Linked DNA regions of Homo sapiens: region 2 is linked to region 1. The links come from fine-mapping of genetic effects on gene expression. A gene starts in region 1. The other region holds a variant in brackets. All regions are shown on one strand. Distances are between the middles of the regions.

Region 1 (8,346 bases):
GATCTATCCTTCAAAATGTCATTTTCCCCCAGGCTTTATATCAAACACACAAAATATAACAAATAAAACAAAACACAACAAAAGCCCTTTACTTTTTTTAACATAGATCAAATAAGTAGAAAGGCAGAGAACAGTCGATCTCACATGGGGGAAAAAACCACCACCACAAAATGTTTTTGCCATCCGCCCACCGGTTTAATGCTCTCTAAATGAATGTATTTCCAGAAATATTATCCCAGAAATTTTATGGATTCCAGGCCGTCCTAGAAATATTATAATTTGAATACCCCGTTCTTTGTTTAAAAAATATCCCTGTCTTGGATTTTAATTGAACATAAAAAATTTAGCAGATGTTTACAAAGTACAAATATGATAAGTTTATATAACTCTGCTAATCATTGCCTTCAGGAATAATCAAAACTCTCCAGCCCTTATTAACCCGCACCTAAATCTGTAGAAGCAGCAATGTTCTGGAAGATTTCAGAAAGACTCATGATGATGAGACAATTGAAATTTGAAGACAAATACCAAAGTAGTCACAAAATCTTCTTCCAATAGCAATAATCTCTGCTTCTCAGTAAATATAACAAAAGGAGTTTGAGAATTCTGGATTTGGAAGGAGTCCCTGAGGCACAGACAGAATATGGCTTGCCAGGTCTATAACTCCTTAGTTTGTAGAACCAGGATTAGAATTCAAGTCTAATACTCAGGCCCATGGGTGTTCCATACTCTCATTCACAAACTCCCAATAATTTCATCATCAATTACCAAAACAAATCCCTGCATATGTGCATAGGAGATATATAGATGTTTATGCAGCATTGTTTATGATAATTGAAAAAGTGGAAATAACTTAAATGTCCTTTGGAAGGAGAAAAGATCAAATGGGGCTTATTCATCTCACCCAATGCCATATACCAGTTAAAGTTAATCAATTCGTGTTCTATGCATTAATATGCATTTTGTTGTAGGAATAAAAATTATACAATGGAATACTATGATACTATGAAAAGGAAATTGAAAGATGTTCCCATACAAAACCTTCTTATATGCAAATGTGTATTTTGCTCCGTAAATTCTTACCAATCTCAGCATATTTTCACAGTTCAAAAAAGCTACAAATAATACAGATAGAAGTTATAAACTTATTACTACAATTAAAAAGTTCAAGGCTGCTCAAAACCACTTGCACATACATGCAATTTCTTCCAAATCTTGAGCTGTTGGTGTCAATTGCCTCATGCAGAGCCTATTAATAAAACTTATATTCACTTGCTTTCTGTGATCATTAATTACCTTCATTTGGGAGACAGAGCTGTCAGGAAATCTTAAAAAATAATTTTTTTCTCCTGAATTAGAGAATTCTTTATTAATATGTTACATAAAAAGGAAATCTGCTTTAGTATATTGACCAAATTCAGTTAGATAATTATAATGCAATTTGCTTCTTTGCGTTGTGGATATACTATGTAGAATCTTTAAATGTTAGAGGATCCTTTGGTGGCTGCTATAAAAGTCTCATTTTACAAGACAGCCCAAAGAAGAAAAATGACTTCCCTAAAGAGATGTAGCTAGTAATAGGCAGCCCTGGGATTAAGACCCAGGCTGCTGACTAGAGCTCTTTACACTACATACCATGTTACTTCTTGGGCATCACAAAATGTATCCACACACTGCCCAATCCCAGAAGAGAAATTGATCAGTCCAGCGATGAAAACAAAACAAAACAATCCCCAAAAATCCCCAAATGCCAGTTCATTGCCATAATAATTTCAAGTCAATTTGCCAAATACTCTTTCACTTTTCAACCGATTACAAGGAGATTGATCTATCTATCTATCTATCTATCTATCTATCTATCTATCTATCTATCATCTATCTATGTATCTCCAATATAACTCTGGGGCTTTGTCATATGTACATATATATGAATTTTACATACCTTTCAGTTGTGTATATATTTGAGGTGTGGTGTGTGTCTGAAGTCTAAAGACTATAATGATACCTTGGGGAAGTTTCTTGTTGTCCTTATGTTTCTGAATCTCCATCTGGAAAATAATTAATATCCATTACATAATGTACATGGGAGCATTAACACGCTTGACCCAGTGGGCTATTTAAACATGAGAGCATTATAATTGTTCTGCAACAGATTTGCAAGATGTGATTTTAGAGATGCCTTTGTCCAAAGGGAAAATCTCCCCCAATGTCTGGAATAGGTCTCCTTATGGGACTTATTCTTTATGGGACTGAAAGGGGCAACATGTAGTAAATATTTTCATCTGTGAAATCCTCTACTCATGGGGAATAAATATTGACTATTTTAACTTTCTGGTCAAAGCATTCTTATTCATTGCTGTAGGCATTGTTAACAGTTTAAAATTAGAATGTTCAGCATTTTCCTTCTAAAATATATTATTTTCCCAAGACTTTGATTTTGGAATTGTACCATACATTTCCGGATGTATCATTAGTCATAGGATAATTTTTTAAAAAGTGACTCTCTTCAATTCTGGTATGTTGTCCTTACACACGCAATCCTTTCCTTTTTAAATTGTTGTCCATGTATATCTTAGAATTAGTCAAAAGAATTTTTAAAACTGTAAAACAATAAACATTTTGGGAGAAGCACTTTGATCCCAGATCTTATGTAATTGTCATTATTTTTCACTATAAGCCAACCATATCTTTGACTCCACTGTCATATTTTTATTCTCTTAATATAATCAAAAAAGGAAAACATTCTATAGGAAGTCATTTCCTTATTATAATGCAATCCCAGATTCTATTTAGCTCATTTGGTTTGTTTGTTTATTTGCTTTCCCCGGGGGCAAAAATATGTTATTTTCTTATTCTGGCTTAAAAAATTTTAAGTCATAATTTCTGATTTCACCAGTAAAACTAAACAATTTTGGCTCTAGCCAGCTGTTGGGAAAACTCAAAAGAAATTTAGGTGCTACAGAAAGAGAGGTTAGTAATTCCAATTGTTCAGCTCTTGCCTTTAGAGTATTCTCTGAGTTGTGTTGGAGTATGTTATTGAGTTGCTGTGAACTACTGCTGCCAACTTCTACCCTAGAGATGGCTATATTTCAGAGATGAGTGAAATTATATTTGTAAACAAGTTTATAATCATTAATAAAGCTTACCAATTTAAGCTCTTCAGAAATACACATCCACTATTATAATTTTCTATTGTTTAATTACAACCTTTAATAGAGACATGAAGACTTTTAAAATGTATAAGAACTCTAAACTTAATTAAATTTGATTTCATGATGTTTATTTGGTTTTTGTAAGTTTCAGGTGTCAAATTATTTCTCCTTAGAGATCCTGGTGAAATTCCACCATTGACTGTTCCAACGTACTGTTTAAAAATCCCTAAGAATATTTTTCTTTAAAGTTGACAACTGTGCACTCTGGGATCCAGATGCTATATTCGCAGTACGATGATTTTGTTCTGTTTTCCACACATGGCCTTTTCATACACTGTCTCCCAGGGATGAAAAATTCTGCCTTGAATGAGAAGTTTTAAACCTTGCTTGAAAATAATAAACACGATACTTTACATGTTTATGGCCATTTAAGTTAAAAAAACGTGCATTTACATGTATCATATTGTTTTACTCTCAAAATTAGTCTTGTAAAGGGAAAAAAGGCATTAAGTAATTCAGTAAATTGTCTGCTGCATGCTAGCCACTATGAAGGGACTGCATGATAGACAAGGCAGTCCCAAAACTTAGAATTTCCTTGGGAAGGTAAGACACGAACAGAATTAACAGCAATGGGGTGGTACATAAGCGTCTCTTCCAATTGAGAAATAGAGGGGCAAAAGGAGATTTATGTGCCGCATTGTGCTAGGAAAGGCACATGTATTATCCCCTGAAACTCGAAACCCGTGTTTGGGGCATGGTCTCCACATGATTTGCACAGTCCACCACAGTGTGAGTCCCCACGGGGGTCCTTTTGACGTCGAGCCCATAGAGTCGTGATGGAGTCTTAGACATGAGGTAGAACTGGCTTTTTTACTCGTGAAAACACTGAGGCTCATGGAGGTGAAATGACTCGGCCAAGGTCACACACACTGATAGCGGCAGAGGCGCGGCCGGAACCAGGTCTTCTGATGCCAGCCCAGTGCCTCCCTACATCTCTACTCCCTGTGGAAACTATTTGCTTCCCTATCGCCCTTCGTCTGGGTGGGGGATGTCATTTTCAGTCAATTTACGGACTTTTCAAAAAGAGAAGGGTGGATAGGAGATTGGAGAAAAGTTTCCTTTCGGTCAGTGAAGAGGCCTGATTCGTTCCAACACCATTTATGGACCTGCTCCTGCCAGGCACTGGGCATCCAGGACACAGCGAACACAGATCCCCTGCCCTCAAAGACGCCCTAGTTAGGGGCGTCTCCGGGTCTTTGATGACCTCCTCTCACGAGCGGTCCCCAGCCCTCCCCAGGGCTCACCTGCCGGCCTCTGCAGGTACCCACGTCCCTAGGACCCGCCACTGGGCCAGGCCCAAGCAGCATCAAGCCCCGGGTCCCCGCCATTGCGCCCGCGTCGCGCGCCTCCAGTCGCCACGGCAACCAGGGAGGTGCTGACCCCTGACCTCGAGGCCCCGCCCCTTCACGTTCCCGAGACCAACATGGAGAAGGCCAACCCGGAAGTGCCGCCGCAGCCGCCCGCCCGGTGTTAGGAGCCGCCGGCCGGGCCAGGCCGAACCAAGCGCCCGCAGCCCTGCAGCCCGCTGCCCGCCCCACGTCCCGCCGGCGCCGGGGCGGCCGCGTTCCCCGCCCTCCCCCACTCCACCCCTGGCTACCCGCTCCCGCCCGAGAGGAGGAGCTGAGGCGAGGGGGAGGAGGAGGAGGGAGAGGTTTGCGAGAGGGAGCGAGGCCGCGTTAGCCGCCGGCGGTTCGTATTACCGGGGTCGGGAGGAGGAGCCGGGCCGAGCCTGCGGACGAACGCCGGGCGGGCGGGAGGCGCGGAGGCAGCGGAGGCTGCTCGGCCGCAAGGAGGCAGGCGGGAGGCCAGGGGTGCAGAATTGGGGCGGGGGCTCCCTTCACCCCCGCAGCCCTCCGCCCGGGTCCGTGTGGCCAGGCCTCACGTGCCCCGCAGGCCTGGGGAAGGTGGAGACAGGGGCGGGGGTCCGCGCAGAGGCCTGCACGGCGCGGCCAGGTGATGGTGGGCCTCTGTGTTTCTCCAGACGAAAGGGGACCCCCGGAGCGGCCGTGCCCCTGGGCTGCCCCCGCGAGGCGTTTTGACATCAGCCATAGGGAAGTCGGGGAGCCCTGAGCCTGCCTGTTTCCGTTAAGTGTCCTTAGGATGCAGTGATTAAGGAATTAGGCTCTCCCTCCGGGAGGGGCACTGCCTGTGCTAGGGAACTCGGGGGCAGAGAAACAGGACAGGATGATGCTGTCCGAGCAAGCCCAAAAGTGGTTTCCAACCCACGTGCAGGTCACAGTGCTCCAAGCCAAAGATCTGAAGCCAAAAGGCAAAAGTGGTACCAATGACACATACACTATAATTCAGCTGGGCAAGGAAAAGTACTCCACCTCTGTAGCTGAGAAAACCCTTGAGCCAGTTTGGAAGGAGGAGGCCTCTTTCGAGCTACCTGGATTGCTAATTCAGGGAAGTCCAGAGAAATACATTCTTTTCCTTATAGTTATGCACAGGTCCCTGGTGGGTCTGGATAAATTTTTAGGGCAGGTGGCAATCAATCTCAATGACATCTTTGAGGACAAACAAAGAAGGAAAACAGAGTAAGTTATGTAATTTATTTTGAATTTGGGGGAGTTTATATCTTATTTATGGTTTTTCTGTTCTTGGAAATTATCCGTATACTTCGGGCGTTGGTTTTTGGATTGAAATATGATCCAGTTTTAAGCACCATATTTGCATGAATCTGAAGTAAAAGTAGCACTCGTGATGAAATATTTTTTAAATGGAATCATTAATGATCCCTTATTCTTTCTGTTAAACATCTGTCAAATAATTGAATATTTTGTGGTGGATTTTAAGTAAGTTAACATTGTTTCAGTATGAGGACTGGATCACAGTATTGACCAACTAGAACTTCATATAAATTGTTATGGATTTTAAACCTTACAATTATCAATGAAATGGAAGATGAGAAATTAAATCTGGCAATGTAATGTTGATGTGTCGCACTTTGTAGCTGTCAAAAGATAAATCACCAGATTTAGAACTCAGTATTTCGTTTCAGCGTTATAAACACAGCTTTTATTTTAGCTCAGCCATTTTTCAGGGTCAGTGTGCCTTGATGGGAGTCTATACCTGTTAGAAAAAAAAAAAGTTTTAAAAGTATGTACAGACATCCTCAACTTCGAATGCACTTACATTTTCCTTTGAATTTGCAATTACATCAGAGTTATTGTATTCAGAATTGATTTTCCAAAGCTATTGTGTTTAGACCATATTAAATGCTGTAGGATGGAGAGAATGATAAATTTTTGTGATGAAATGATTTGATAACATCTTCAGTGGTCTTTTCAGTATGACTTTTGAGCTTGAGTTAGATACATTTTAATTTAAAAAATCATAATATAAATTAACACTAGGATATTGTGTCTTAAATTGAAAAAAAATATGTTTTTAGAGTTAAGTATACTCACCCCTTCCATAAACTTAAAAGGACATTATATTAATGAAATTAGTGAGAGAAAAATACTGGTTGAACTTCTAAGAGGACTTTCCATTTCCAAAATAGTGTTGGTGTTTTGTTCAGTTATAATTGAATTTATTTACTCTTTAAAAAACTTTCTTACAATGATATTTTTCTTGAAGTTTATGTTAATTCTTTACATTTTAAAACGACTCTCTCTTGTTCTTTTCTGTACATTTCTACTCTCAGGCTTCTCTTGATTGGAGTTTTTTTGTTTCATTTTAAATCAGGTCTTAACCTAAGATTTAATATATGTGGAGTAAAAGTGTAGAGAGATCAGAAATACTAGGAATGCAGGAGGAAAAATGGTACCATTTAATTGAGATGAAAATATTTTAGAAGGAGAGAAAAAGTTAAATGTAAAGTTTAATATATATCAGTGATTTGAATAATAAAATTATTTGATACCTAAAGAGTGGCATTCAGTTTCCTCCGAGGGATTCTTTATCAAATTGAAAGTGAAAAATGGATAATTACCAAATAATCTGTTTCAAATTGCCAATTTTGGGTGACACTTAGTAAATATTTAACGTGTTTTGAATGTAAACTATTAAGTATATTGCACCTTCAAATTCCTCACTTCATTTATAGTACTTTAATATTCATGGATCATGTATTTCAGGCCTTCTCTGAAACATAAATTTTCCTAGTGAAAGTAGGACCAAATGTGAACCCAAGGAGTCTGAGGATGAAATAACCTTTTACAATTTCTTCTTGTTTTACTCCTAGTCCTGGGCAACATCACAGTTACAATACATTTGGTGTGAGCAATACTCTAATATTATGGTCTCTCCTTATAGAAATTCTCTACTGGCTATTATATAAAATTGATTAGAACTTTAGGGGTAAAATGCTTTTAAATGTTATCAACAGGGTTTGTGATGTTATTGCATTCAAAGTGATTTTCATATATTGCTAAACCCTTAACATTTTATTTGTGGATAAATGGGGACCATGTATTTGATGAGATATCTTTATTGGTAATATTTCTAGTTTTTTAATATATTTAATAGCTTCCTTTTCTAGCACAGCTGTACCTGTGGCCCAGTAAGAGACAGACTTGAGCCGCCGGTATATTTCAAGGAAGATATTTAATATTCTGCACATTGCTAAACTTTTTCAGCATATTCCCAAGTGCTTTTTAGAAAACTGTTTCGAGTGATGAGGACTACCAGCTAACTTAGATGTCCTATGAAACTGCTGGGTGTGACACTTTTTACATTTTGACACTGAAGACATATATTTACAGCTTGTCTTCCAGTTGTGTCATGATAGATAAAGAAGTATGACAACTAAAATTATTACTTTACTTATTTTCTTACCTTGAAAATATATGTCTTTTTTCTCTCTTAAGGAATGGGGAAAAAGGGTCTGAGCCAGAACCCTTTGAGTGGGCCTGGGAAGAGAACTTCTGTATCTCCTCCTTTAGAGGATGTCTGGGTTGGTTCTGGCATGAGATTTAAAGAAATAATACAATGTTTAGTAATAGAATGTTAAAATCATTGATGCTGTTGTGTAATATCCATTGATTTTTTACAATAGAAGTAGGTGATGTTGACTTTTTTTTTTAATGCTCATGAAAAGTAATAACAACCAGAGTCTGTAGAGTTAGATGTGACTCAGACATATGCAGATTTTAGGACGTGTGTGTGTCTCAGCGGTGCACCTGTGTCC
Region 2 (8,346 bases), 30 kb before region 1:
TTTCTTAAAAATGAAACAACTTCTTTGATTGATATTCGTGAGTTGCAAACCAAACAAAACTATGTAAAAAAGTGCATAGCTGGCAAAATGGCATGACAAATGATACCACGAAGTTCATGAGGAAAGAAAGCTAAGAAACGTTCCATTCTCCAAAGTAATTGAAACCTAGGCTTTACCATTCACTCATGAACCATTCCAGCTGAGAGGTTCTTCTCACAGCCACCAGCAGACCCTGAGTGAACCCTGGTGCAAAATCTAACGTAGAACACTGCTGTGTTGTGCATGCCTGCATAGGCCCTCAGGAAGGGGAAATAGGTTTGGCTAGGTAAGGATATATTTCTTAGGGAATAGGAAAGACAAGCTTGCCCCTCTCAAAGGCACACAATCCAGGTCTGCCATACAGAAGAGGGAGCTTTGAGCATCTTTATTTTAGCTGCATTGTGAATTCCTGCTCCCATCCACCAATATCAAGTTTAAGGTGGGGAAGGGTGTCAGGTGGGAATGACAGAAGGGCAAGACCCACAGGTAGAAAAAGAAGCTGCCAAGTCACTCCATTCTCACCCCTTGTCACCTGGGGTGGACATCAATGGCAGCTTTGTCTTAAACAAGAGCTTTGGTCAAGCAAAGGCCTTTTGCAATACGCCGACAGCTTTGGTTTAGTTTTACCACTAATCAGTGCTGAATGGAACGTGGATTCAATACACTCTCAAAAGGAAAGCGCTTGGTAAGCTGAGGCTTTCTGGGTTTTCTCTGGAACTTTTTTATTAAAATTCTGATTATTGCTGGGTCTACAAATCAGATAGTAAAAGAATCCAGAATATATGGCCATGCTTCATAATGCATAGCATATGAACTAACTTGCAAACCATGCTCTTTTAAATAATGAGTAGAGGAAAACTGGCTTTTAATTATTTTACTGCTAAGCTCTAAAGTTTATTTTACTAAATATAACTTTTAATGTTATTAATTAACATAACTTTTGAACAAAGGAAATATCCTATGTTGATGACTGTAAAGAATCACACGCATATCCATTCTCATAGTCTTCCAAAGTTAAAGGTACAGTATGAGATACATCATTCAAATACATAATGGAATCCTTGAGTGGTTCAATGGATGGCTTGAATTAATAAAAACATAGGGAAATTATTCTTTAAAACCATGAATTCACAACTACAAAGCCTATTTTTGCTTTGCTATTATTAATACAATAAGAGGTTTGACTTTGACCCTGAAATCACAAACGTGGAAAACATTAACAGTATTATATTGACATGTCTGAGCCTCTCTTTTTCTGTATTAAACTGAGGCTTCTGATAAGTTTGAAGGAGTCCCTATGGCACCAAATAAAACTAAACAATTTATACAGCCTAAGATCAAGGAGGTCTAGTGAACCAAAAGATCCCAGCTCCCTGATAAAAGGAAGTCTATTTGAAACCACTGGCAATTATTAACGTTTTAAAACTATAATTTAAGAAATCATTCTTGTTAAAAATAAATATTAACCTTTTGGAAAATCTAACCTTTCTAATAATCTATATAACAGGCTTTTCAAAAACATTTCAGATTCATGTTGATAAAAATGTGTTCATATTATTAACCTAGCCTTTTTCCCTCAACCATGATACATTTAAACTAAGAATGAATTAGAAGGCTGCAATTGTCTTTAATGTAATAGCATATCTATTATAATAAATTGTCTTTTGGAATGTTATGGCTTTTCCCCAGAAGTATTTAATTTTTTTTTTTTTTTTTTTTTTTTTTTTTTTTTTTTGAGACGGAGTCTCGCTCTGTAGCCCAGGCTGGCTCTGTAGCCCAGGCTGGAGTGCAACGGCGCGATCTCGGCTCACTGCAAGCTCCGCCTCCCGGGTTCCCGCCATTCTCCTGCCTCAGCCTCCGGAGTAGCTGGGACTACAGGCGCCCGCCACCACACCTGGCTAATTTTTTGTATTTTTAGTAGAGACGGGGTTTCACCGTGTTAGCCAAGATGGTCTTGATCTCCTGACCTCGTGATCCGCCCGCCTCGGCCTCCCGAAGTGCTGGGATTACAGGCGTGAGCCACCGCGCCCGACCTCATAAGTATTTAATTCTTAAGATTGGGTTTTGGTAACAAAATAAGATGGGATTTTTGTCTTCCAGATCATCACTTAATCTCCTCTGGGGTAACAGAGCAGCAGTTTGTTATAACCTGTGAGTTCTGCAGGGTTACTCTGTACATCCCTACCAGGGAAACTGCTGTGGTGTCACAGATTACAGTGGAAGACACATGCTGCCTTTCTCTTGTTTTCAATCTAAATAGGCCAGTAGCCATGAGCCATGCTTGAGATGGAACATACTCCAGAGATAAGCATATAACAAAGTGGAGTAGCTAGGAAGCAATTGTCACTCGTTGTGATACTTCAAATCAGTATTCAAGACTAGCTTACCCCAAGTGGGATAACAGGCCTTTTGTAGCCTGAAAAGAATGTGCATGAATCTGAGTGCCTATAAATATTGTTGCCTACAGCTTGGTGGTTCTTTGGACGTCATGTTTTCTTTGACTTTCTATTGAAATTACCACTTTGGTAAAGCTTGCAGGATAAACCTTATTTCCAAAAATAGTTTTTGTCAGAGAAATAAAGCAAAAAAAAAAAAATTGTGAATCTTAAGAGGTCATTCCTTTTAATCCTGGTTAAGTATAAGCAATTTAGAATATTTAAATGTAGTGATATTTACAAATTGTTAGAATGGGCATTAATCCTCTTTAATCTTTAGCGACATTACGGAGGCAGTGCTCTATTAAGAGAAGGAAAGTACTGAGACCATTTTTTAGCTGAAAATGTCAGTCAGTGAAATTGAGCTGTGTCCTCAAAACAACAAAATGCAGTTTAAATTGATCTTCAGACTCTCAAAAATGATGTCTTCATTTCAAATATATATATGGTTACAATAATTAATGTGTTCTATTGATTTGCTTGACAACTATTAATATACCCCATGTTACCAGGATAATCTGAGTCCTTTTGAAACTCCTTAAATGGAAGTATTTTTGAATATCATGAGCTGTAGTTGATGCCAATTTTTGGTCCTATAGAGTAGCTTAGTATTCCCAAAAGACTGTTTCTCAATTTGTTTTTGGTTTAAACAATTGGTGTTTAATTTAACTAAGGAAAACCTTAAACTTAAGATTCAGTTGTGGCAACACAGAATGAAATGGGATTTTTGTCTTCCAGATAAATAGTCATTAAGTTCAGCTCACAAATCTCTTTAGTCTGTATATAAGTATAGCAAATGTTAATAATTATTTTTAAGTGCGCTTTGAATAATGTTTGGTCTCATTAATTAAACACTTTCAAATATTTAAACTTTGTTTCTAAATTTAATATATTCTATATTTTAAGTACTTCAATTATCTAAATTATAGAAATTACAGCAGATATTTAAGAAGCTGTTTTATATCTTGTACATTAAACCTGATGACACTGAAGTTCTTTTAAATGGTCCAATATTGTATATGAGCTTAGTAACATTTCAGTTTAAAATCTCAAGTCTAAATAAAGTGATAAACCATCCCTAACTGAGGGAGATGTCTGGTATACAGAGCTTTCTATTTTAAAATGAAGACAATTCTGAGCAAATCAGGAGAAATTGGTCGCCCTAAGTCAAAATCACACAATTACAAATTTTCAACTGAAGTCATAAGACTGTCATTCCAAGAAGACAAATTTGTAAAATAAGAAATATGAACAGCTTTCTTCTTAACCACCAAATATTATTACTTTCATTTTAATTATTGCAATCCTTCCTACACTTAATTTTAAATCTCCCCAGAGCTAAAAGATTCTTTCCCACTAAAGGAAACCTGTTACCATGCCATGTAATTTAGGTCACATGTGCATAGAGATTTTGGCCCACATAGGCACTAGACTTGTTAAAGACCCTGATGAGTTTCACTGAACTTTGTTTCATGGTTGAAATGTCATGGACTTCAAAATATGAAGGTGAGCTCAACATCACTAATCATTAGGGAAACGCGAGTCAAAACCACAGTGATATATCACTTCATACCGATTAAAAGGGCTACTATTAAAAAAAACAGAAAATGTTGGCAAGAATGTAGAGAAATTGGAACCCTATGCACTGTTGGTGGGAATGCAAAATAGTGCAGCTGCTATGGAAAATAGTATAGCAGTCCCTCAGAAAATATAATTACCATATGATCCAACAATTCCACTTCTGGGAATATACCCAAAAGAATGGAATTAGCTGGGTGTGGTGTCACATGCCTGAAGTCCTAGCTACTCAGGAGGCTGAGGGAGGAGGATCACTTGAGCCCAAGAGTTTCAGGCTGTGAAGTGCTAGGATTGCACCCCTGCACTCCAGGCTGGGAAACAGAGAGAGACCCTGTCTCTGAAAAAAAAAGAAAAAGAAGAGGAAAGCCGAATCTCCAAGAGACATTTGTACAGCCATGTTCATAGCAATATTGTTCACAATAGCCAAAAGGTAGAAGCAATTTATGTGTCCACTGATGGATGAATGGATAAGCAAAATGTAGGATATACATTCAATGGCCTTAAAAAGGAAGGAAATTCTGATACATACTACAACATAAGTGAACTTTGAGACGTTATGGTAAGTGAAACATCATTCACAAAAAGACAAATACTGCATGATTCCACTAATGTGAAGTACCTAGAGGAGTCAAATTCATAGAGACAGAAAGCAAAATGGTGGTTGCCAGGGGCTGGGGATGCAGGGGAATGTGGAGTTTTTTTTTAATGGGTACCGAGTTTTAGAGTTTTAAGATGAAGAGTTCTGGAGAATGGTTGTACAACAGTGTGAGTGTACTTAACACTACTCAACACTACACTTAAAAATGGTTAATATGGGCTGGGTGCAATGGCTCATGCCTGTAATTCCAGCACTTTGGGAGGCCGAGGCAGGGAGATCACCTGAGGTCAGGAGTTCAAGACCAGCCTGGTCAACATGGTGAAACACGTCTCTACTAAAAATACAAAAATTAGCCAGGTGTGGTGGCGTGCACCTGTAGTCCCAGGTACTTGGGCAGGTGAAGCAGGAGAAGTGCTTGAGCCCAGGAGGTGGAGGTTGTGGAGAACCAAGATGGTGCCAATGCACTCCAGTCTGGGTGATAAAGCCAGACTCCATCTCCAAAAAAAAAAAAAA[T/AT]GCTTAATATGGCAAAACTTATGTGGCATGTAGTTTATCACAATTACAATAATTTAAAAAATCAAAAAGTTTGGTAACAACAAGTATTGATGAGGATATGTAGAAATTAGAACTGTCTCATACATTGCTGGTGGGAAGGTAAAATGGTGCAGCCACTTTGAAAAATAGTTCAGTCATTCCTTAAATGATTAGATGTAGAGTCATCATATGACCTAGCAATTCCACTACTAGGTATATACCCAAGAGAAATGAACACATATGTTCACGTAGAAACTTACACATGAATGTTTATAACAGTATTATTCAGAATATTCAAAAGGTGGAAACAACCCAAATGCTTGTCAATACGCAAATGGATAAACAAAATGTGGCATACAATGGAATATTATTTGACTCTAAAAACTCATGAACAAACTTCTGGTTTCTGGTTCTAACCTGAACCTGATTCCCAGGTTCTAACCAGAAACTGGTTTCCAGGTTCTAACAGTGGAGATAGAGAAAAAACCCCTCATGCTTCTGGCAGGGGGAGGAGAAAAGGAACTGTTTTGGAGTATGCAGAGCACTCTGTTCTTCTTAATAAGACCTGCCCTGAAAAGAAACTATTTTACCAGAGCCTAACCAACCTAGGTGTAGAGAAATGCCCAACTCCAGCCCCCTCTATGGCACTATGGCGGGGGAAGTTTGGCAGGGTTACTGGGAAGCATTTGTGAAGTTCACAGCCCAGGGACCCAGGCTCACTAAAAGACCAATGCTGAATCATACATGGTACTATAGAATGCTTTCTCTCCCCTCCACACCATACTATCACATTACTAAAGGCCTATTTACTGCAGTTCCTTGTACCCAGTACATTATCTCTAGCTTTCAAAAATTGCAAGGCATACTAAAAGACAAAAAACAAAACAAAACAAAACAAAAACATAGTTTGAAGGGAAAGAGCAAACATCAAAACCAGACTCAAATATGGCAAGAATGTCAGAATTATCAGCCTGGAAATTTAAGACAATTATGATTAATATACTAAGGGCTCTAATGGAAAAAGTAGACAACACACAAGAATATGTGGATAACGTAATCAGAGAGACGGAAGTTCTAGGAAAGAATAAAAAAGAAATGATACAGAGCAAAATACTGTGACAGAAGTGAAGAATGCTTTTGATGGGCTCATTAGTAGACCGGACATGGCTAAGCAGAGTCTCTGAGCTTGAGGATGTGTCAATAGAAACTTTCAAAATTGAAGAGCAAAGGCAAAGAAGACTGAAAAAAATGGAATAGAATATCAAAGGATGGTAGGACAACTATCAATGTAACATGTGCATGATGTGCATGACGGGAATAGCAGAAGGAGAAGAAAGGAAGGAACGGAAGAAATATTTGAGGCAATAATGACTGTGAATTTCCTTAAATTAATGTCGGACACCAAACTACAGATCCAGGGAGTTCCAAGTACACCAGGCAGAATACATGCCAAAAAGAATACACCTAGGCATATCATATTGAAACTGCAGAAAGCCAAAGATAAATAAATCTTAAAAGAAGCCAGAAGAAAAATGAAGTATTGATATGTGCTACAACATAGATGAACCTTGAAAACGCACTTAGTGAAATAAGTTAGTTACACAAGACCACATATTATATGACTTCATTCATTTGAAGGTCCGGAGCAGGAAAGTTTATAGAGACAGAAAGTAGATTAGTGGTGACTTACGGCTGGGGGGAGAAAGATGCAGTGATAGGGGACTGGTAGCTATAGGGTATAGGATTTCTTTTTGAGGTGAAAATGTTCTAAAACTGACTGTAGTGATGATAGCATATATCTGTGAATATACTAACAACCACTAAATTGTATATTTCAAATGGATGAATTATATGGTAAGAGAACTATATATCAAAAAGGCTATTAAGTTTTTTAATGTGAAAGTAGTTGGTCTCAGAGTTCACATTGCCTAGTTCTTTGTCTACCCACAGAGGCCTGTAACTCTTACCCAGTTTGAACCCTTGCTTGAATTTTGCGTTTCTTTGACTTTTAGGATGTGTCGAATTCTAAAGACCTTTGGCTCTGATGAAGGCCTTAGATTTGCAAATGTATTTTCTATCTGACCTGATGAAATCTTGCATTCTTTTATAGTCTTAGGACCACCCAGCCCTTAGGGATATTTAAAATGATATCCAAAGAATTCTGGAGACCTCTTCTAGCTTGTCATCACCACATGCAAGACCTTTCTACTGCCAATTGTGATACTGGTGAGGGTATGACTATTCCTAGCATGTTTTTCTATGGCTGAATAATTTATAAATAATAAAAAGTCTCTGAATCACCAATTTGCCAAATTTATAAAATTTACTAAAATTACTTGAAATTTGATGATTTTGCCTAGCATAAAGTTTATGTAAATTAATCACGGGGATGATGATTTATCAGAGATGTTTTTTATAGCTTAACAGGAGAGTTAAATTTGTCAAAAGCTAGAGATCATAAAACTATTCAGTCTTACGAATAATATTTAATATTCAGAAAAGGAACCAAAATTTTCAGCAATTCATAATAAATCAGTACATAGATACAGGTAACTGCAGGATTTATGACTTTTAATTTACACAGGAAATTTGTAGTTCATACTGTTATGAACTGAACTGTGTCTCCACCAAATCTGTATGTTGACGCTCCAATCCCCAAGGTGACTGTATTTGAAGACAGGGCCTTTAAGAAGGTAATTAAGGTTAGATGAGCTCAAAAGGATGGGGGGCTCTAATTTACTAGAACTGGAATCCTTACAAGATGTTGAAGACACATCAGAAATGCTCACACAGAGAGGAAAGACCACGTAAGGAGACAGAGAAAGCAGACCATTCACAAGGCTGCATGGGAGGTGTCACCAGGAACCAACCCTGCTGGCACCTTGAACTTGGACTTCCAGCCTCCAGGAACTACAAGAAAATAAATTGTTGTTTGAGCCACCCAGTCTGTAGTATTCTCTTATGGCATCCTAAGCAGACTAATACACTACCAATTTTTCAAAATGATTTTTATGCCATTTTCTGTTTCAACAGACAAAGAGTCTGTTGAAAATGCTAAAGAAGCATTTTTTAAGATTATTTCACCAATTTCCCAAGTGGTATAGCAACTTCAACTTATTGTTTTTAATAAGTTAGAGGCCAGAATTTAATTTGCAATATGGTAGC

What was found. PIP is the estimated chance that this variant, and not a neighbour inherited with it, causes the effect.
Region 2: its variant is fine-mapped to the expression of RAB11FIP2 in whole blood (INTERVAL, PIP above 0.99).

The regions. Positions count from the first base shown.
Region 1 is chr10:118,043,214-118,051,559 of GRCh38, reverse strand. RAB11FIP2 (RAB11 family interacting protein 2) reads left to right here and starts at 4,619. Exons shown (of 5, transcript NM_014904.3): 1 at 4,619-5,749. The coding sequence starts at 5,397. It overlaps CASC2 (cancer susceptibility 2), which reads right to left and starts at 4,739. Exons shown (of 4, transcript NR_026940.1): 1 at 4,457-4,739; 2 at 1,943-2,048. RefSeq lists a silencer at 4,692-5,181.
Region 2 is chr10:118,072,751-118,081,096 of GRCh38, reverse strand. All of the region lies in intron 3 of CASC2 (cancer susceptibility 2), which reads right to left. Among named protein-coding and RNA genes, the nearest start is that of RAB11FIP2, 30 kb to the right of the region's middle. The variant T/AT (reference allele first, on the strand shown) is at 5,164.